Homo sapiens: one gene and its partners. The protein of the gene in region 3 interacts with the protein of the main gene of each other region in a biochemical or structural test. Each region holds a gene or a part of one and is shown on either strand. Other genes may lie near its edges.

Region 1 (7,023 bases), on a different chromosome or scaffold from region 3:
CCACGCCCAGTTAATATTTGTATTTTTAGTACAGATGGGGTTTCACCATTTTGGCCAGGTTAGTCTCAAACTCCTGACCTCAGGTGATCCGCCGGCCTAGGCCTCCCAAAGTACTGGGAGTACAGGCATGAGCCGCCGTGCCCAGCCCACCGCTTAATTTCAAGATTAATCAAATATGACTTCAAAACAGATCAATTTTTTTTGAGACAGAGTCTCGCTCTGTCACCCAGGCAGGAGTGCAGTGGCGCAATCTTGGCTCACTCCACCTCCTGGGTTCAAGTGATTCTCCTGCCTCAGCCTCCTGAGCAGCTGGCATTACAGGTGTGTGCCACCACACCCAGCTAATTTTTGTATTTTTAGTAGAGACCGAGTTTCACCATGTTCTCCAGGATGGTTTCGAACTCCTGGCCTCTAGTGATCTGCCCACCTTGGCCTCCCAAAGTGCTGGGATTACAGGCATTAGCCACCGCACCTGGCCCAGATCAACTTTTTTTAACCCACCTCCTGCACAAAAAATGGTCAATTTTTAAGTTGTAAAAATTATTCAACATGTACAAAGTCACCTCTTAATTTCAAGATTAATCAAATACGCCTTCAAAGGAAATCAACTTTTAACCCACCTCCTGCACACAAAAAAATCAGTTTTTAAGTTGTGAAAATTATTTGACATACACAAAGATAAAAAGGCACTATTTTAAAATTACTTGAAGTCAATGCACTTCTAATTTTTGGAATCCAGTTAAGTATCGTAACTAAATCTGGCATTCTTGTTGAATTGGAATGGGTGATAGGAAATGCCTACTATTTCACTTTTAAGTGTATATGCAAGAATTAGTCATGCTTGGATTTGGAGTAAATTCCAGTCTATCATTGCTCTGGCACACTTCAATTACCACATAGAAAGTAAAATGCAGGGCTGGGTGCGATGGCTCACACCTGTAATCCCAGCACTTTGGGAGGCCGAGGCGGGTGGATCACAAGGTCAGGAGATCAAGACCATCCTGGCTAACATGGTGAAACCCCGTCTCTACTAAAAATACAAAAAATTAGCCGGGCGTGGCGGCGTGCGCCTGTAGTCCCAGCTGCTGGGGAGGCTGAGGCGGGAGAATGGCATGAACCCAGGAGGCGGAGCTTGCAGTGAGCCGAGATAGCGCCACTGCACCCCAGCCTGGGCGACAGAGCGAGACTCCATCTCAAAAAAAGAAAAGAAAAGAAAAGAAAGTCAAATGCAATGGCAAATCAAATCCAAAGCCCTAAAGAGTTAAGTGCCCTTGGCCAGGCGCAGTGGCTCATGCCTGTAATCCCAGCACTTTGGGAGGCCGAGGCGGGCAGATCACAAGGTCAGGAGATCAAGACCATCCTGGCCAACATGGTGAATCCCATCTCTACTAAAAATACAAAAATTAGCTGGATGTGGTGGCACGTGCCTGTAATCCCAGTTACTCAAGAAAGGCACAAAAATCGCTTGAACCCAGGAGGCGAAGGTTGCAGTGAGCCAAGATAGCACCACTGCACGCCAGCCTGGGCAAGAGTGAGACTCCTTCTCAAAACAAACAAACAAAAGAAACAGAGTTAAGTGCCCAAGAGAAGAGTGAAAACTTAGCAATGTAAATCTAGAGCATATCAGCATTAAATTAGGATGGCTGAAACAATACATAGAATATTTATAGTAACACCTGGTAGTTTCTTCCAATGCACATATATAATAAATAGAATCATGGAAGCTTTTTCTATTACCTAATCATTTTACAGCCTTGTAGATTTAACAAACTAAAATGAAAACTGAATCTCCATTCCATAGCTTGCTAAGTAATTTTTGATGTTCTCTTTCTCCTCTGTCTTATACGTGAAACTCCAACAGATTTAATATTGGCATTTATCATCTAGTCAAATCCTTCAGATGCTCTTTAAACCAGTCCAGTTTGAGACTCTCAAGCGTTTCTCTGTTAATAAGGAGTGAAATTAGTAGATTTGATGAAGACCTGGTTTTTTTCCTTGCCACATTGAACTTCTAGGCACCATTTGGATTCGGTTTTAGTGTATGGGTTGGAGAACTGTAGCTGTTTCTTGACCTGCCTCTTAATGGTAGAGATGTAGAAGGGCAAGCAAGACCACAAGGAGACCGGCTGTAGGCTGTAGGGCACTGTTGGAGGGCTTTGTGGTTTCGGCTGCAGTAGCTTCCGGCATACTGGTTAAAGGAACAAATGAAGAAACCTGCACGGGTAGGAGCAGCGCCAGAAGTAGCAGACCCAGAATGAGCATCGCCACCATCCCCTTACCCATTTGGATCAGTGTGCCGTGTGTCCAGCTTGCTGCTCAGTGTGCTGGAGGATGGGTGGCTCCTGGCTGGTGCAGGGGAGATAGCAAGTAGGGTCTTATATTCAAGGGGCATCATAATGGCAGTGACATCACTCCCTTTCCTCCTACATCCAGACAAGTACTTTGTTTCGAAACAAAACATTTAAGTTGCTTAGAAAGCCTGGACCTTATTAATTACAAATCTATAAAAAGGCAGATTTCGAATCTTTTTTTCCCAAGTGGCGTGATTTTTCCCTTGGTTTTTTTTTCTGTCCCATATGACCTTCAGAAATTTTTCTTGATTCTTAAAAGTGATGCAAATTTTTTGTTAAAAGTTGTTAGCACAGGGTATGAGAAGAGGTTTTTACCCAGAGATAAGTATTATTGATATTTGGTATATTTTCATATAGTACATATACATGTATTTACACAGTAAAGATTGTACTTTTGTATCCAGAATTTTGGGTTAACAATTATTGTGAGCATTTTCCTGTCATTAAAAATGTAAAAGGTATGGTTTCATTAACTTCTTAAAAAGTTTGTGGCCGGGTGTGGTTGCACTCGCCTGTAATCCCAGCACTTTGGGAGGCCGAGGCGGGCAGATCATGAGGTCAGATTGAGACAATCCTGGCTAACACGGTGAAATCCCATCTCTACTAAAAATACAACAAAATTAGCCAGGCGTGGTGGCGGGCGCCTGTAGTCCCAGCTACTTGGGAGGGTGAGGGAGGAGACTGGTGTGAACCCGGGAGGTGGAGGTTGCAGTGAGCCGAGATTGCACCACTGCACTCCAGCCTGGGCAACAGAGCGAAACTCCGTCTCAAAAAAAAAAAAAGTTTGCACACTGGCCAGGTGTGGCAGCTTATGCCTGTAATCCCAGCACAGTGGGAGGCCAAGGCAAGTGGATTACTTGAGCTCCGGAGTTTGAGACCGGCCTAGGCAACGTGGCAAAACCTCATCTCTACCAAAAACACAAAAAATTAGCTGAACTCCATGGCACATGCCTGTAATTCCAGCTACTTGGAAGGCTGAGGTGGGAGAATCAATCGAACCCAGGAGGCAGAGGTTGAAGTGAGCGAACATTGGGCCACTGCATTACAGCCTGGGTGACAGAGTGAGACCCCCATATCAAAAAAAAAAAAAAAAAGGAAGAAAGAAAGAAAAAAAGGAAAAAAGGAATGAGATATTCATGAAATACAACGGATGAAACTCGGAAACTTTTTTTTAAAGGTTGCACACCAAGTTTGGTGTGTGTAGTTTTATCCCTACTTTTTGTTTTTCACTATTCTTACGTACTTACAGAGAAGTTGTAAAGACAATACACCATGGTATTATTCCTAGTTGGTTCTAGGTGATGGGGATTTCTATATTTTCCAACTTTTCCATATTGGTCATATTTTTATTTTTATTTTACTTGATTTTTTTTGAGATGGAGTCTCGCTCTGTCCCCCAGGCTGGAGTGCAGTGGTGCGATCTCAGCTCACTGCAACCAACACCTTTCAGGTTCAAGCAATTCTCCTGCTTCAGCCTCCCGAGTAGCTGAGATTACAGGCACGTGCCACCACGCCCGGCTAATTTTTTGTATTTTTAGTAGAGACGGGGTTTCACCATGTTGCAGGATGGTCTCGATCTCTTGATCTTGTGATCTGCCTGCCTTGGACTCTCAAAGTGCTGGGATTACAGAGGTGAGCCACTGTGCCAGGCCTATTTTTGAGACAGGTCCTCACTCTGCCACCCATGCTGGAGTACAGTGGCGGGATCTCGGCTCACTGCAACCTTCATCTCCCAGGGTCAAGCAATTCTCCCACCTCAGCCTCCCTAGTGGCTGGGATTATAGGCGGCGCCGCCACCCTTTTGGTAGAGAAGGGGTTTCACCATGTTGCCCAGGCTGGTCTGGAACTCCTGAGCTCAAGCGATCTGCCCACTGTAGCCTCCCAAAGTGCTAGGATTACAGGCATGAGCCACCGCACACAGCCTGGTTATATATTTCTTGTGCAAGTTGAACTGGTAGTTTTTTAAGGGACAGGATTAATGGAATTCAAGTTATATAAGCCAACAAGGAAATTGCCTTGTAAGAAAAGCCTAAAGGAAAAAGACAGTAAGAATTAAAGACTCAATACACTAAGTTCATGGTTAATGACATAGCACTTATGTGAATGGGAACTGATCCTCTTTGAGAGATTGGGAAGAGTAAAAAGAATACTTTTTACTAATGTTTGAAATTTGCTGGCTGGATGCAGTGGCTCACGCCTGTAATCCCAGTACTTTGGGAGGCTAAGGTGGGTAGATCACAAAGTCAAGAGTTCAAGACCAGCCTGGCCAACAAGGCAAAACCCTGTCTCTACTAAAAATACAAAAATTAGCTGGGCGTGGTGGCGTGTGCCTGTAATCCCAGCTACTTGGGAGGCTGAGGCAGGAAAATTGCTTGAACCTGGGAGGCGGAGGTTGCAGTGAGCTGAGATAGCGCCACTGCCCTCTAGCCTGGGCAACAGAGCAAGACTCCGTCTCAGGAAAAAAAAAAGAAAAGAAATTTGGGAGTGAGTTATAATAAGAAATTAGAAGAAGTTTTTAAAAACTTTTTTTGCATTTTCTTATGAGCTTGAAGAGAAACTTGACTCAATATCCTATTTGTCCTTTATTTTCAAGATATTTTCTTTATTAATTAATTAATTAATTTTTTATTTGAGACAGAGTCTCACTCTGTCCCCCAGACTGGAGGGCAGTGGCGTGAAAATGAGATACATGTGCATTACATGCAAGTTTGTTATATAGGTATATGTGTGCATGGTGGTTTGCTGCACCAAGCAATTCTTTTGTTTGAGCCTCCCAAATAGCTAGGACAACAGGTGTGCACCAGCACGCCGAGCTAATTTTGTATTTTTAGTAGAGACAGGGTTCCACCATGTTGGACAGGCTGGTTTTGAACTCCTGGCCTCAAGTGATCCTCCCGCCTCGGCCTCCCAAAGTGCTGGGATTACAGGCGTGAGATAAATATTTTCTTTATATTCCAGAATATAAAAACTTACTTTCTCTTTGCTTTTCCTAAGCCACTGCTTCCTGCCTCTTCAGGAATCTGATTCTCTTTTTCAGAATCTTTAGGGGACAACCTAAAGAATTCTCCAATTCCTTTTTGCCACTTGGGAGTTGGGCGCACGCAAACGGGGTTCCCTCCTGCATATTTATTTTCAGCTGTAAAATATAAACAGATGGAACTAGATAAGTGCTAATAATACAATCTCTATTCCTTAAACAACTTAATTCCTTCTTTAACATCAAATTCTCAAAGGTATTAAATAATCTTTATTTAAGATATACAACTTAAAGAATTAGAAAATGTGACACAATAAAGCTGTATTCCACCAATAAACTCAGTGTGATGGTTATCTTAGCAATAACAGTAGTAACAGAATTTTTACAACTGAAAAATATTTTTATATTTTGTCCACAAGCAGAGCTATTCAAATACTCTTGCCGGGTCCAGTGGCTCACGCCTGTAATCCCAGCACTTTGGGAGGCTGAGGAGGGTGGATCACAAGGTCAGGAGTTCGAGACCAACCTGGACAACATGGTGAAACCCCCGTCTCTACTAAAAATACAAAAATTAGCTGGGTGTGGCGGCACGTGCCTGTATTCCCAGCTACTTGGGAGGCTGAGGCAGGAGAATCACTTGAACCAGCGAGTCGGAGGTTGCAGTGAGCCAAGATTGCGCCGCCACTGCACACTCCAGTCTGGCAACAGAGCGAGACTCTGTCTCAAAAAAAAAAAAAAAAAAATATATATATATATATATATATATATATATATATATATATATATATATATTCTTGTATGTACTGACATACTGAAGTTTGACACACTTTTTCCTAACATAAGATAGGACCATGTAGTATAAAGTGCCAACATTTTACTTACTAAGGTCATTTAGTTAAAGCACATATAAGAGGCAATGTGAAAGTCTCCACAAAAGTAGATTCCATTTTTCAAAGCACCTGGCTCCTTTTCAGTTCATAAGAGAAGTCCAATTCCTGGTGTTTTTTTTTTTTTTTTTTTTTTTTTTCAAAGTCTAGCTCTGTCACCCAGGCTGGAGTGCAGTGGCGCAATCTTGGCTTACTGTAACCTCTGCCTCCCGGATTCAAGTGATTCTCCTGCCTCAGCCTCCCGAGTAGCAGGGATTACAGGCGCCCGCCACCACGCCCAGCTAATTTTTGTTTTGTTTTTGTTTTTTTGGGGGGGAGACAGAGTCTCACTCTGTCACCCAGGCTGCAGTGCAGTGGCACGATCTTGGCTCACTGCAAGCTCCGCCTCCCGGGTTCATGCCATTCTCCTGCCTCAGCCTCCCGAGCAGTTGGGACTACAGGCGCCCGCCACCACACCTGGCTAATTTTTTGTACTTTTAGTAGAGACAGGGTTTCACCATGCTAGGATGGTCTCGATCTCCTGACCTCATGATCCGCCCGCCTTGGCCTCCCAAAGTGCTGGGATTACAAGTGTGAGCCACCCTGCCCGGCCAATTCCTGGTTATTTTTCAACAGTAATATAAGGAGAAATTGAGGGAAAATTCTTGCCTTTTTATAAAGTAATGACCAGGAACAAATTATTCAGTTACTGCAAATCTTTTGCTTTAAGCTAAAACATTTGCTTTAACAACTCTAGTTGTTAAAGAATGCTTACAAAAGTTGTTTCCATATAGACTCTGAAGTTATATTGTTTCTACTTATTTATTTA
Region 2 (7,023 bases), on a different chromosome or scaffold from region 3:
TCCCCAGCCCAGAGAGTTCCTGCTGCTTAGTTCAGGCCATCTGGCTGCGGCTGGACGTTTATATGTGCCAGCCTACAAGCTTTCCTCTTCCCATGTAGGGAAAGGTTATTTTAGTCAGATGCCAGTGCCTGGTGCCTTGTGTGTCTAACCCGACGGGTGGGTGGTCACTTGCTGCAGCTGCCCTGATGCTGTGGTTGTGGGGCTGCCAAGATGTGGCTGGAGAGCACTTTTCCTCATAGGGAGGAGTCCTAGGCCCAGAGACCACACCCAGTCAGGGAGGCTAAGGCAGCTTCTAGGGGGAAGGGACGGGGTAGGGGAATTTGCTTTGCTACAGAATTGCCTGCAAACATCTAATCTAGTCTGAATTTTTGGCTGTGTAGACCAGGCCAATGGGGGACGGGCCAAGACCAGATTTTCCAAATGTACTTGCATGACCAAGTTCTGCGTGGTAGATGGACCTTGGATAGGCAGCCTCGTTCCACTCCCTTCTTGCAAAGCTTCTGGCTTGATCTACTGGGGAACATGAGTGCCTTAGCTGTGGGGTGGTGTGAGAGTATTATTGCTCTGGGTTTGAGTCCATCTGAAGTCTCCCTAGCTCCGTTGTGCTTACTGACCCTCCCCTCTGGATGTCCCCAGAGGTGCTTGTAAGCCTGCAGCCAGCTCCATCTCAGGGCCACAGTCCACCTGGCTCTGGTCAGATCCTCTGGGGATCTCCAGGGTGAGACCAGTCAGAAGGAGAAGGGGGCACAGAGGGAATGGCCAAGAAGCCAACCCTGCCCTGTCTGCAGCCTGGCTTAGAAAGCCCCTGCATCATGGGGAGGAGCAGGGGGCAGCCAGGCCCCTTGCCCTGGATAACTGAGGGCACTGAGGTGCCTGCTGCTTGGGAACACCCTTTGCCCTATGCCTAGGGGTCAGCACAGCCCGGGGATCCTTGGGCAAGGCTGGGGGCAAATGAACTTAGACTGTAATTTTGTTCTGAAACATGAGGTTTATACAAAGAGAAAGAGGATGAAAGGGGCCTGTCAAAAGACCCCATAACTTGGAATGGGGCTTTATGCCATTGATTTACTCATCAAGTGGTTAGTGCCTCCAAAGTACCAGCCTCTGTGCTGAGCATGTGCAGGTGTCCAGCAAGAATTGCTGCCTCTGAGACACTGAGGACTCAACATCTGTCATCTCTCTGGTTTCCACTGTACCTCCAAGAGAGGAACCATTGCCAGTGGGGGAAACTTGGGCATGGTAGTCAAGAACTCACAAGGATACAACATAACGAAGACTCCTAATGCCCGCGATGGCACTGCTGTGAGGGACAGAAGGCTGGTGCCCTGGGGACAGGGCTGTGTGGAAGCAGACATAGACAGGACTTGGAGGTGGTGGGGTGGAAAGATGGGTCACTGGGGAGCACCCAGGAGGCCGGGTCTGCAAATAAGCAAGCATCTGAGCCTTTGGTCACCAGCTGGCGAATTTGGCTGCATGAGAAAAGAAATACCAGCGATCGCTTTATTGCTTCTATGTTTTTTGTTTATATGCTCCCAAGAGAGATTTTTTTTTTTACCTATGACCAAAAATAGATCAAAGGAGGGTAGTCATAGCAAGTGGGGGAGTGAATGTCTGGATTCAAAACAGGTTACTTAATACAGCTCTGTCTGTGGGCTCATGGGTGTCACAATAACAATGACAATGATGATAGTATTAGCTACCGTTTGCTAAGCACCTACTGCGTATCAGGCACCTGACTCGGTGCTTTACATACATTACCTCACAGCCAGGTTGGCAAATGGTCATTTTGACACACACACACAGGGAATACAGGTGGATCTTTTGCAGGTTTTTGCATTTCCCCTAGGTGACCGGTTTAGAGGGGTGCTTTGGCTGGGCCTTCAGATAAAGACTGGGAGGAGAGCCCTGTGGCCTGGCCTGGTCCCTTCGTAGCATACTCTGCCCCAGCTTCACACACAAAGGAGACCTGACCCAGCAAGGGTCTCACTGTGCCTGTCAGGATGCCACCACGTGGGGGCTGCCAGCCCTGCAATCCAGCCACCTCCTGGGCTGGGGACCCTCCCAGCTCCCACCTGGGGCTGCCAGAGGGGAGAATCCCAATGGCCCCTGAGTTCATGGCCATGTTTATTTTGAGTAAAACATGAGGGAATAAACCAAGGAGCAAGGGGGCAAAGCCAGAATAAATTATGAAATAATTTTCTAAAAGATGGTCAGCAGAATCCCCGCAGCTGTGAAACAAAAAGCTCTGTCATCTACAACAGTGCTTCCTCGAACGCTGGACCCTTGAGACATGTGACGGGACCTGAGGGCAGCCACCGGGCTGGCGGGGACCTCTCCGAACGCTGATCTCAAAGAGGGTGGAAAGACCTTGAGGCGGGGCAATCCGTGAGGTTGCTTTCTTGCTGAAGATGTGATTTGGACATTTTACGTGAAAGCAGTGCCTGGTGCTGGCAGTGACACCCGGGTGGCCACAGAGACGTGAGGGATGACAGGCGGCGGTGGGGATGTAGTGGCTGTAACTATGGGAGGTGCCAGGGAGGTGATGCAAATGCTGGATGTGCTCTCGGTCCACTCATGCCTCTTGAATTTGCCAGAAGGTGTGACCGTCTCCAGACAGCGAGGGAGTGAGGATAATAATATAATCTCAAGTGATAGTCGTGACAGGAACCCCACGACGTGTTCTCCCCTGAATGAGCTGGGATCAGGGCCTCTTAGCGAGTGGAGTGTTGGAATACAACTGTACAAAGAAGAGAGGGCTGTAAACAGGAGCCTCCACCGGGCCCAGCCCAGGCTCTGTGGACTCTTTCTTTCTGGTCTCCCCATTCACCCACCGAGTCTCCCCACCATCGCCCTTCATTGCCCTCACTCTTTCTCCTTCACAGTGACCAAGTCTCCTCGTAAGGAAACTCTGTCCGCAGATGTGGAGCGCCGCCGCCTGCCTGTGGGGTCCGCGGGCCCAGGCCCTGGACCTGCGGTAGGAACGGTCAGGAGGACTGCATCAGGCCCGTGAGGCGCTTGCCCGCCAGCGACTTTCCCTGCAGAGAGACAGCGACAGAGAGGCACGCACAGGCGCACACACAGAGGGACAGAGACAGAGAGCCAGACAGGTGAATTAATTGTTGCATGAGCCATGTAGGCCAAACGACCAACCAACCCAACTGACCATCTTGATATTTGATCTCTAGGTGTATGGGAGCCTTAACTTTGGACAGCTGGAGAAACCAGGGCTCCAGGGAAGGTTCAGGGAGTCCTGGAGGGTCCCCTTATGAGGGTGTGTTGTTGGTACTCTTTTTGTGGTATGGGAATTTTACTTACCAAAAACCAGGTATTTAAACCTTTAGGTAGAGCAATTTTTAATGCCGGCGGGCTGCCCTGAAATTGATTTTGTTCACGTGGGGGAGGAAAAGGTGGACTTGGGGTGTTCTGAGATCAGGGACGGGGGCTTGACTCAAATAGAGGGTGGCCAAGGATCTGGCTGATCAGAAGCTAATGAATGAACTAGTCTTAAGAAGGCAGAGTCCTGTTTGGAATGCAGGGTAGACACAAAGACCTTGAGTCCTCTTGATGACCAGTTCTGGGACCATGAAAGTGGGGGGCATTTGCTGGGGCTCAGAGCCACTGTAGGCCCCAGGGCAGTGCACTCCTGCTGTCTCCTATGTTCTTGGCTTCCCATCTGTGGCACCCAGAGGCAGAGTTTGATGACCCCATACCAGGAAAGCCTACAAGCCCTTCAACTATAACCCATGTGGCAGTTCTTCTCAAAAACTAAAACAGTGAACTGGATCATGAGGCCTGGTGCATCAGCCATAGAGGTGCCAGGAGAGTCCCGTTGTGTATGTGCCCTGGAGAGATGGCGGAGAAGCCCCTGATCTAGGAGGGGAGTTGCGACTGGGCACCAGGAGGAGGGTGAGGGGCACGAGCGAGGCTCCGTCGCTTTGCTTATTGCCCTTACATAGTGTGTGCCCGTTCTCCAGCTCACCCTCTTTAGAAATCCGCATCATTGCACAGGGCTTTAGAGGACAGTATGGCTAGACCCAGGCAGATTGATCACTGTGTCTGGGAAAGCACTCCAAACCCATATTATTGACAGTGGGTCAGCGACACCACCGCCATCTGTGAAGGGCAGCACGTGATAGCTCGTCAGCATGGGGCTGCAGTGTTTGGCCGTGAGATTGCAAGGGCCAGCGATTCCTCATGTTCATTTCCAAGTGGGGTGTGAGGGCTCGTCTTGTTTACTGGGCTTGGCTGCGTGTAAGCTAGATGTAATTTAAAAAATTGATCAGGTTTGTGAAGCCTGGTAGGGTCCTCAATAAACCTGCTGATTGATGAATTGATGGATAACGGGTTTATCTAATAAACAACACGGGCTGTGGATTTGCTGGATACAGGACAATGTGGCATCTGGCTTAGATCTCCATGGAGAGGCATGGCCAGCCTGACTTTGAGAATTCTGGTGCTATAGATGGGAGTTTGTCCAAAAATGAAATTGCCCTCAGGAGCTGTCAGAAAGTCTGCCTTTCCCTACCTCTCCTTGACCTTTTTCCTCCCCATTGCTTTCACTCCCCATTTTCACTAGTGAGACAAAACTTTTCATTTTTTCTCCCCATCTTAAACACACACACACACACACACACACACACACACACACACACACGTCCACAAAATCACCCCATCAGCAACCTTATCTGAATCTTCAAGTGCACTAAACTTAGCCTGCAGCAGGATACATTTATACTTGGCTAAGGAGTTTTTAATCAGATTTTTAAAAAATCCAAGAGGGTTATGGTGTCAGTCTTTGAAAATCACTAAGAATGACTACTCCTTTGTCTAGACCAGGTTAGGTACAACAATAGCTCTTAGAAGGCAGAGGCTGACCTTCAAGGGCTCCCCCCAGCCCCGGGTTCTGTGGCACACACCCAGCGGTGACTCTCCTTGAGTGCCCTTTCTTACATAGAGTGTGAGGCATTTGTCACTCGGGAATGTGCCTTCCTGGGGCAGGCCTGAAGGCAGGAAACATGGGGGTGTGGGGCATCCTTGCTGGGGAAACACGGGGCTGCTGAGCCTAGGGGCCTCCTTGTGTGAGAGCTCTTACAAACCTCCCCTACCCCCGGTTACCTATGTCCATCCCTGTCCTATGAAAGGCACAAAGGAAGTTTGCTCTCCTTTTAGGTGCCACTTATTGCTGTGATAACCACCACACACCAATATCAGGTCCTCCTCCTCCTCCCATCCCTCCTTCGCCAGGGCCACAAATCACACATTATGTACCCAAATATATATGTTCTGAGTTTGCTATCCACAGCGTTTGGGGCTCTCATTTAGCTGGTGGATGGGAAAAAAAAAATCACTCAAGCTTCTGAATAAGAGTCTGTTGCCAATGAGTACATTCAAAGCCCAGAGACAAAGGAGGTGAGGTTTACCAGTTGCCCAAACCTTCACTGCAGCCTCATTCCTATTAACAAGGTTATTTTGGCTGGAGAGGGGACTGTGGGTTGAGGGAGGTTGGAGATTCTATTTCTGGAGGATTATGTGTCTATTTGTTTTAGGTGAATTTGGCCCTGAGGCTTCCATACCCTCAACCCTTCCCCTTTCTACAGAATGGGCTGGGCTGGGCTGGGCTTGAAGGTGCTAATTATTCTCTTCCTGACTAAATCCTGGAGCTCAGCCTCACCGCTCTGACTCCAAGGACCTGTGGCCAGCCTGTCACTGCCCGCTCCTCGCTTCCCCCGACTGCTTTTATTTCCCAGGATTTCAGGGTAGGATGGTGCAGCTGACCAGCTTAGGGGCCACCCTTGGGATTGTTCCCAACCTCTCAGCAACCCAGGCGGTGCTGCTTGGCATTTTTGTCTCCCTCTCCCCACTCCTGCTTTCGCGCATTTACCAAATGCCAGCTTGCTGCTAAAGATGGAGGTCATGAGGGTTCAGGTCGGCTTGAGAGGCAGCTCAGCCCAGCTGCAATCTACTCGCTACCCAGTGACCTCCCGCGTGAGTGAGGGCAGGCTCAGACTGGAAGGCGGTTAATCATGCAGGATGCGGGCATGGGTAGATGCCTGGCCCGGGGCTTTGGGGAAGAAATACTGCAATCACACTTGCTCAGCAGCTGCTTCCCTTCTGAAGAGCTGAGACTCCTGTAGTTTTCAGTGATCAAAGTGAAATCTGATAGTAGAGGCTACCTGTGTTCAGAGATGAGCTGCCCCAAAGTGCATGCCCCTATAGGCTTGCAGGAAGCTCCCGAGGAATCCGCTGTGCCCAGAGAGAGGGGAGCTCCTGCCTGTACCCTCCAGGGCACTGCCCCGTCTCTTTACTCTCATCTCTGTCTCCAGTTTGGATGATCCTGAAGGAACCACTTCAGAAGGGGAATGGTAATTCTGCCTGCCTGTGTCTGGCATTTGCATAGTTACAGAGGAAGCAGGTTTTTTTCAGGGTGTGAGTGTGTAATGTTCCTCAGTGTTGGTCAGTTGGGAATGGATCATGGTGCCAGGAAACCGCAGCCAGCTCAGCCCGAGGCCTTGGCGTAGCTGAGCGAAGCAGCTGAGGATGGTTGAAAATGCTATTAGCAGGCAGCCTTTGTCCAAGTGAAAAAATATACAGTGATTAAGAACTGAGCTGCAGAAGGTACATTCCAGAGACACCAAAGCTTTGCATACCGACAAAGTGCTTTTCACCTTTGAGACATTTGGCAAAGTGTAATCCAGTAGAATTTGGGATCCTTCAATTTCATGGACCATGGGCTCAGTGCTGGGTTCACTAACACCCACACATTCAATTCCCACCCTCCGCTCTGATTAATCATTTCAGCTCTGTGGCCATCTTGATGGCTAGGAGCCTGGAAGAAGGTGGTCATGGAATCCTTTGTTTTCTGAAAGGAAACACACAAAAGGAATAGCCCCCTTTTGTGCAGTGAGAAAAATCAACATGCTGCTTGACATGCTGTGGCTCTGTGCATTGCACTTCCACATATTAATCAACAAAGCATGCACTATCTGGGTTACCAAGAGCTTTTGCCACTTACTTACCTGGGAG
Region 3 (7,213 bases):
TCCCGAGTAGCTGCGATTACAGGCACCTGCCACCATACCTGGCTAATTTTTTTGTATTTTTAGTAGAGATGGGGTTTCGCCACGTTGGCCAGGCTGGTCTCAAACTCCTGACCTCAGGTGATCTGCCCATCTCAGCCTCCCAAAGTGCTGGGATTACAGACGTGAGCCACCGCGCCCAGCCTTCTAAAAAATTTTTTAAGGATTAACTTGGGCATGGTGGCATGTGCCAGCCACTCAGGAGGCTAAGGCAGGAGGATTGCTTGAGCTCAGGGGTTCAAGGCTGCAGTAAGCCATGACTGTGCCACTGCATTCCAGCCTGGGTGACACAGTGAGATCCTGTCTCTTAAAAAAAAACTGAAAAAAACAAGCTAAGTTAGCCACTAGCATGTGAACCTTTATGTGCCATGCATATTCTCATTTAACCCAATACCAGCTGAAAACCCATGTCATTATTCCTAGACTATGGATATAGAGGTGGCATACGCTTGTTTAAGGTCATTGAGCCAGTGGAGGTCATGTTTTCAAGAAGGCTGGGCAGGCTGGGCATGGTGGCTCACACCCGTAATCCCAACACTTTGGGAAGCTGAGGCAGGAGGATCGCTTGAGGCCAGGAATCGAAGACCAGCCTGAGCAACATGGCAAGACCCCATCTCTACAAAATAAAAAAAAGGAATAAAAAAGGAAGGCCGGGCCCAAACTTCTCTGAATTGGGTGTAACATCATGAAGCCAGGCACTTTCATAATTTCACTTCCATTCCATTTTAAATCAAGTTTTATTTTGGGAGAATACTGGCACAGATGATTCAAGAAGATATATACCCACTAACTGGTTAAGAAGTGGTTTGACTATAATCCCAGCACTTTGGGAGGCTGAGGCAGGTGGATCACGAGGTCAGGAGTTCGAGACCAGCCTGACCAACATGGAGAAACCCCGACTCCACTGAAAACACAAAAATTAGCCAGGCGTGGTGGTGTGCACCTGTAATCCCAGCTACTTCGGAGGCTGAGGCAGGAGAATCACTTGAACCCTGAAAGTGGAGGTTGCAGTGAGCCGAGATCACGCCACCGCATTCCAGCCTGGGTGAAAGAATGAGACTCCATCTCAAACAAACAAACAAAAAAAAGTAGTAGTTAAGGCATGATGGCTCATACTTGTAATCCTAACCTTTGGGACACAAAGGCAGGAGGACTGCTTGAGGGCAGGGGTTTAAGACCAGCCTGGGCAATATGGTGAAACCTCACGTATACAGAAACAAAAACTAAGAAAGTCATCTGGGCATGGTGGTGGGCGCCTGTGGTCCCAGCTACTCAGGAGGCTGAGGATCCCTTAAGCCCAGGAGTTCAAGGCTACAGTGAGTTATAATTGTGCCAGGGCACTCCAGCCTGGACAACAGAGTGAGACCCATCTCTAAAAATAAAAAGTGTTTCTTTTTTTGAGACAGGGTCTCACTCTGTCACCCAGGCTGGAGTGCAATAGCGCGATCTCAGCTCGCTACACACAGCCTCAACCTCTGGGGCTCAAGTGATACTCCCACCTTAGTCTGTTGAGTAGTTGGGACCACAGGCGCACGGCACTACTCCAGGCTAATTTTTGTATTTTTAGTAGACATGGGGTTTTGCCTTGTTGCCCAGGCTGGTCTCAAACTCCTGGCTCAAGAGATTCGTCCGCCACTGCCTCCCAAATTGCTGGGATTACAGGCATAAGCCACAGCACCCAGCCTTCAAAAAAAAAAAAAAAAAGAAAAGAAAAAAAGCGGGGGTTGAACCAAATATCCATCCCTCCCCAAAGACCCAAATCAGAACCGGACTGGCCCAACCAGGTCAGTTAACAAGCCTAAGGAAATAGAAAAATGGCAAAGAGTGCTTTCACAAATCCAGCTGGAAGTGTCCACGCCTGGTGAGGGTTCCTCTGACTCACGCACACCTCACTTGAACAAGTTTTCAGGAATGAACTGATGGCGTTCATGAACAAGGGGCTGGGACCAGTGCTCCCACTGATCCTTGTGCACGGAAGTTGGACAGAGGCATGAACTGCTAAAGCCAGGGCCTCCAACATTAGACACACACTAAAGAACACACCCATGAACACACACAAACACACACGAAAGTGTAGCCAGTTCTCATTAGCAAGACTTCCCTGATGCCCACGGCTCACAGGCACAGATTTACAGGAAAAGACCAACCATGCAGCCTTCACGCTTCCCGGGCCCTGCGCTGCAATGCACGGTTAAAGTTCCTGCCAAAACATGGACTTTCCCAAGGAGCAAGAACCACACAGTCCCAACTGACAGAATGAGTACCCCACGGAAGGCTGGGCTCTCGAACATGAGCCAGCCCAGCCCAGGCCCCGACGGGTGACATCCGTCTCTGGAGGCCGCCATCGAGATGCACAGCTTTGGGGGAAAGGCACTGAGGGACCCCCCACCACAGAAGCGCCCCCGGGGACCGGGCCGGACACCGGAAGTGGAGGCCGAAGTGCCGGTGCCCGAGGGGTGTCCGTTGGCCGCGGGCTGCCCACTTCCTGTGCGACCAAGCTGGAGTCAAGAGCCCGGCCCACCGCTGCTTGAAGAAGGGGACCCCGGAAACGAACCCAAAGCTTGCTGTATTTGGGGATCAAAAGAGAACCCCCACCCCGCCTAGTTTCTAGCCACCAGGGAGCTACGGGGGAATCCACGGTCCATTTTGGCGCCAAACAGCCCGGGCACGCGCGACCGGAAGTGCCACCCTGCCCGCGCCAACTGCCGCTGCGCGCCGCACCACCCCACGCATGCGCGCCCGTCTGTCAGCAGCGGCCACCGGCCACCCCGAGGGGAAGCGACCCCCCACCCAGCGCCCTGCCTGTCCCCCTGAGTCCGTGTTCCCCCCCATGGTACCTACCGCCTGCGGACATCGTCGGGCAGCGAGATGGCCGGGACGGCCAGTGTGGGCACCCGGGCTGGGGCGGTACGCGCCGGCATCTCGGAGGCTTCAGCAGACGCGGCGGCGGCAGCGCAGGCGCCCCGGCTTTTCGCGCGGAAACCGATGGGGAGGGGCGATGAGCGGAGGCGGCGTCTACCACCCCAGTCCGGGCGTGGGGGAGGAGGGGATGTACCAAACGGAGAGAGGCGATACCCTGTGCAGAAGGATGGAACGGAGCCGGCCATGCCCAGGGAACACGCATGCGCAAGGCGGGCACACACCCCCCCCACGCGGAGCAGTGGGCTCGTCCAAGCTCCACGGTTTGCTGGGAGGTGGGCACGGTGCCCGAGGCATTCATTCATTCATTCTTTCAGGTGTGATGGGGATAAAGCAGCGAGAAGCCCCCAAGGGTTTGTGAGAGCCCTTGAGTAAAGTCCTCAGTTCCAATCCAACCTCCATCTATTTGCTGGCTATACGACCTTAGGTGGGTCACTACGGCTCAGCCTCTGTGTCCTCATCTGTAAAACGGGGTAATTGCACCTACTCTAGAAAATCTTGAGTATACACAGAATTTGTAGCTAGTACCAAGAATCTCACAGTGTATAGAGGCCCATGCCACTTCTATACCCAGTGTGTGGGGGGTTTTTTGTTGCCTTTTTTAAGCACCACGTGGCTCACGCCTGTCATCCCAGCACTTTGGGAGGCCAGGGTGGGAGGATCGCTTGAGCCCAGGAGTTTTAGACCAGCCTAGGTAACATAGAGAAACTGCATCTCAAAAAAAAAAAAAAAGAAAGAAAGAAAGAAAGAAAAAAAGAAAAACAAAAATTAGCTAGTCGTTGTGGCATGTGCCCATAGTCCAAACTACTCCAGAGGTTGAGGCAGGAAGATCACTTGAACCGGAGAGGCAGAGGTTGCAGTGAGCCATGATTGTACCACTACATTCCAGCCTGGGAGACAGAGCAAGACCTTGTCTCAAAAAAATAAAAATAAAAAGTAAGAATAAATTAAGAAGCACCATGTCAGGCGCAGTGGCTCACGCCTGTAATCCCAGTGCTTTGAGAGGCCCAGGTGGGAGGATCGCTTGAGGTTAGGAGTTCAAGACCAGCCTGAGCAACATAGGGATACCCCATCTCTACAAAAAATACAAAGATTTGCTGGGCATGGTGACACACACCTGTAATCCTAGCTACTTGGGAGGCTGAGGTGGGAGGATGGCTTGAACCCTGGCAGTGTAGGCTGCAATGAGCCATGATTGGGCCACTGGACTCCTGCCTGGGCGACAGGGTAAGACCCTGCCTCACTCTGTCACCCCGGCTGGCGTGCAGTGGTGAGATCTTGGCTCACTGCAACCTCTGCCTCCCAGGTTCAAGCGATTCTCATGCCTCAGCCTCCCTAGTAGGCTGGGATTACAGGCGTACTCCACCACGCCTGGCTAATTTTTGTATCTTCGGTGGTAGAGACAGGGTTTCACCATGTTGGCCAGGCTAGTCTGGGACTCCTAGCCTCAAGCAGTCCACTTGCCTCAGCCTCCCAAAGTGCTGGGATTATAGGCCTAAGCCACCGTAACCAGCCAGAATTTTTTTTTTTTTTAAAGCACCAGAACATGGGGGAAAGATTGTGTCTTTAACAAATGGTGCTGAGAAAACTGTATAACCACATACAAAAGAATGAAGTTGGACCCTTACCTTACACCATATACAAAAACACAAAACTTATTAAAGATTAAACATAAGACCTGAAACTATAGTGCTCCTAGAAGAAAACATGGGGAAAAGCTTCATGACAATGGATTTGGCAATGATTTCTTGGATATGACAGCAAAACACAGGCAACAAGACAAAAGATAGACAAATGGGTTTGCAACAAACTTAAGGATAGCTATACAGCAAAAGAAATGACCAACAGTGAAAAGGCAACCTACAGAATGGGGAAAAAAAAAGTTTGCAAACTGTATTATCTGGTAAAGGGTTAATATCCGGAATATATGAAAAATTACAGCCAGGCATGGTGGTTCATGCTTGTGATCCCTGCACTTTGGGAGGCCCGGGTAGGCAGATCACTTGAGCCCGGTAGTTTTAGACCAGCCTGAGCAACATGGCAAAACCTCGTCTCTACCAAAAAAAGAAGAAAAAAATTATATAAAAAATAAATTACTACCCGTCAGGCTTGGTGGCTCACGCCTGTAATCCCAGCACTTTGAGAGGCCAAGGCGGGTGGATCACCTGAGGTCAAGAGTTTGAGACCAGCCTGGCCAACATGGTGAAACCCTGTCTCTCCTCAAAATATAAAAATTTGCTGGGCATGGTGGTGTGCCTGTAATCCCAGCTACTCGGAAGGCTGAGGCAGGAGAATCACTTGAACCTGGGATGCGGAGGTTGCAGTGAGCCGAGATTGCACCATTGCGCTCCAGCCTGCGCAACAAGAGAGAAACTCTGTCTCAAATAAAAATTTAAAAAATAATAAATTTCTACAATGCAACAACAAAAACTCGATTTACAAATGAGCAAATGGGCTGGGTGCGGTGGCTCACACCTGTGATCCCAGCACTTTGGGAGGCCCAGGCGGCAGGCGGATCACGCGGTCAGGAGATCGAGACCATCCTGGCTAACGTGGTGAAACCCCATCTCTACTAAAAATACAAAAAATTAGCCAGGCGTGGTGGCAGTCGCCTGTAGTCTCAGCTAATCAGGAGGCTGAGGCAGGAGAATGGTGTGAACCCAGGAGGTGGAGCTTGCAGCAAGCCGAGATTGCACCACTGCACTCCATCCAGCCTGGGCAACAGAGCGAGACTCCGTCTCAAAAACAAACAAAAAGAGCAAATGATTTGAATACATACTTTCCCAAAGGAGATATGCAAATAGAAAACAGGCATATGAAAAGATGCTCAACATCACTGGTCATCAGGGAAATGCAAATCAAAACCACAATGAAATATCCCTAAGACCCCTTAGAATGGCCACTGTCAAATAATAAGTGTTGGTGAAGATGTGGAGAAACTGGAACCCTTGTGCACGGTTGAGAGTCGAATAAAATGGTGGAGCTGCTATGAGAAACAGCATGGAAGTTCCTCAAAAAAATTAAAAATAGAATTATCATATGATCCAGCAATCCCATTTCTGGATATAAATTCAAAAGAATTGAAAAGAGGATCTTAAAGAGATATTTGCATACCCGTCTTCATTGCAGCATTAGTCACAACAGCCAAGAGACAGGAAAAAAAAAAAAAAAGATCATATTGCTGCTAAGAGATGGGGTCTTGCTGTGTTGCCCAGGCAGGTGTCAAACTCCTGGGCTCAAGGCATACTCCTACCTCAGCTTCTTAAGTAGCTGGGACTACAGGTATGTGCCACCACAATGGGCTAACTTTTTATATTTTTTGTAGAGACAGGATTTCTCCATGTTGCCCAGGCTGGTCTCAAACTCCTGAGCTCAAGCGATCTGCTGGCCTTGGCCTCCCAAAGCGCTGGGATTACAGGTGTAAGCCACTGCACCCAGCCTAATTCAGTCTTTAAAAAAGAAAAAATGGCCAGGTGCAGTGGCTCACACCTGTAATCCCAACACTTTGGGAAGCCAAGGCGGGTGGATCACCTGAGGTCAGGAGTTCGAGACCAGCCTGGCCAACATGGAGAAACCCCATCTCTACTAAAAATACAAAATTAGCTGGACATAGTGGCTCATGCCTATAACCCCAGCTACTCCGGAGGCTGAGGCAGGAGAATTGCTTGAACCCTGGAGGTGGAGGTTGAGGTAAGCTGAGATTACACCATTGTACTCCAGCCTGGGCAACAAGAGGGAAACTCCATCTCAAAATAAATAAATAAATAAATAAATAAATAATATAAAAGTAAAAATACAAAATTAGCTGGGTATGGTGGCATGCACCTGTAATCCCAGCTACTTAGGAGGTTAAGGCAAGAGTACTGCTTGAACCCGAGAGGTGGAGGTTGCAGTGAGCTGAGATCACACCATTGCACTCCAGCCTGGGTGACAAGAGTGAAACTCCGTCTCCAAAAAACAAAAGAAAAGAAAAAATATCTTATTATATGCTACAACATGGATGAACCTTGAGGACATTACGCACAGTGAGAGAACCTAATCACACAAAGACAAATACCATACAATTCCACTTATGAAGTATCTAAAGTAATCAAAATCTTAGAAACAGAAAGTAGAATAGTGGTTACCAAGGCCGGGGGGGAAGGAGGAAAAGGAGTTATTGTTCAAGAGTTTCAGTTTTACAAAATGATTCCAGAGATCTGTTGCACAACAATGTGTATATACTGAACTGTACACTGAAAAATTGATAAGATGGTAA

What was found. The genes of interacting proteins can lie anywhere in the genome.
Region 1: the proteins of DNMT1 (region 3) and PCLAF interact in a test that uses a peptide from one of them, tested with the Homo sapiens proteins (one study listed by BioGRID).
Region 2: the proteins of DNMT1 (region 3) and RGS6 form a complex in vitro, tested with the Homo sapiens proteins (one study listed by BioGRID).

What each region holds. Positions count from the first base shown.
Region 1 is NC_000015.10:64,371,419-64,378,441, forward strand, and holds part of PCLAF (PCNA-associated factor), read right to left. Parts: intron 5,488-7,023; coding exon 5,325-5,487; intron 1-5,324. UniProt on the Homo sapiens protein: PCNA-binding protein that acts as a regulator of DNA repair during DNA replication.
Region 2 is NC_000014.9:72,558,429-72,565,451, reverse strand, and holds part of RGS6 (regulator of G-protein signaling 6), read right to left. Parts: intron 3,036-7,023; coding exon 2,985-3,035; coding exon of another isoform or gene 2,863-2,984; 3' UTR 2,738-2,862; coding exon of another isoform or gene 2,425-2,737; 3' UTR 1-2,424. UniProt on the Homo sapiens protein: Regulates G protein-coupled receptor signaling cascades. Inhibits signal transduction by increasing the GTPase activity of G protein alpha subunits, thereby driving them into their inactive GDP-bound form. The RGS6/GNB5 dimer enhances GNAO1 GTPase activity.
Region 3 is NC_000019.10:10,191,943-10,199,155, forward strand, and holds the start of DNMT1 (DNA (cytosine-5)-methyltransferase 1), read right to left. Parts: upstream 3,012-7,213; 5' UTR 2,958-3,011; coding exon 2,878-2,957; intron 1-2,877. UniProt on the Homo sapiens protein: Methylates CpG residues. Preferentially methylates hemimethylated DNA. Associates with DNA replication sites in S phase maintaining the methylation pattern in the newly synthesized strand, that is essential for epigenetic inheritance.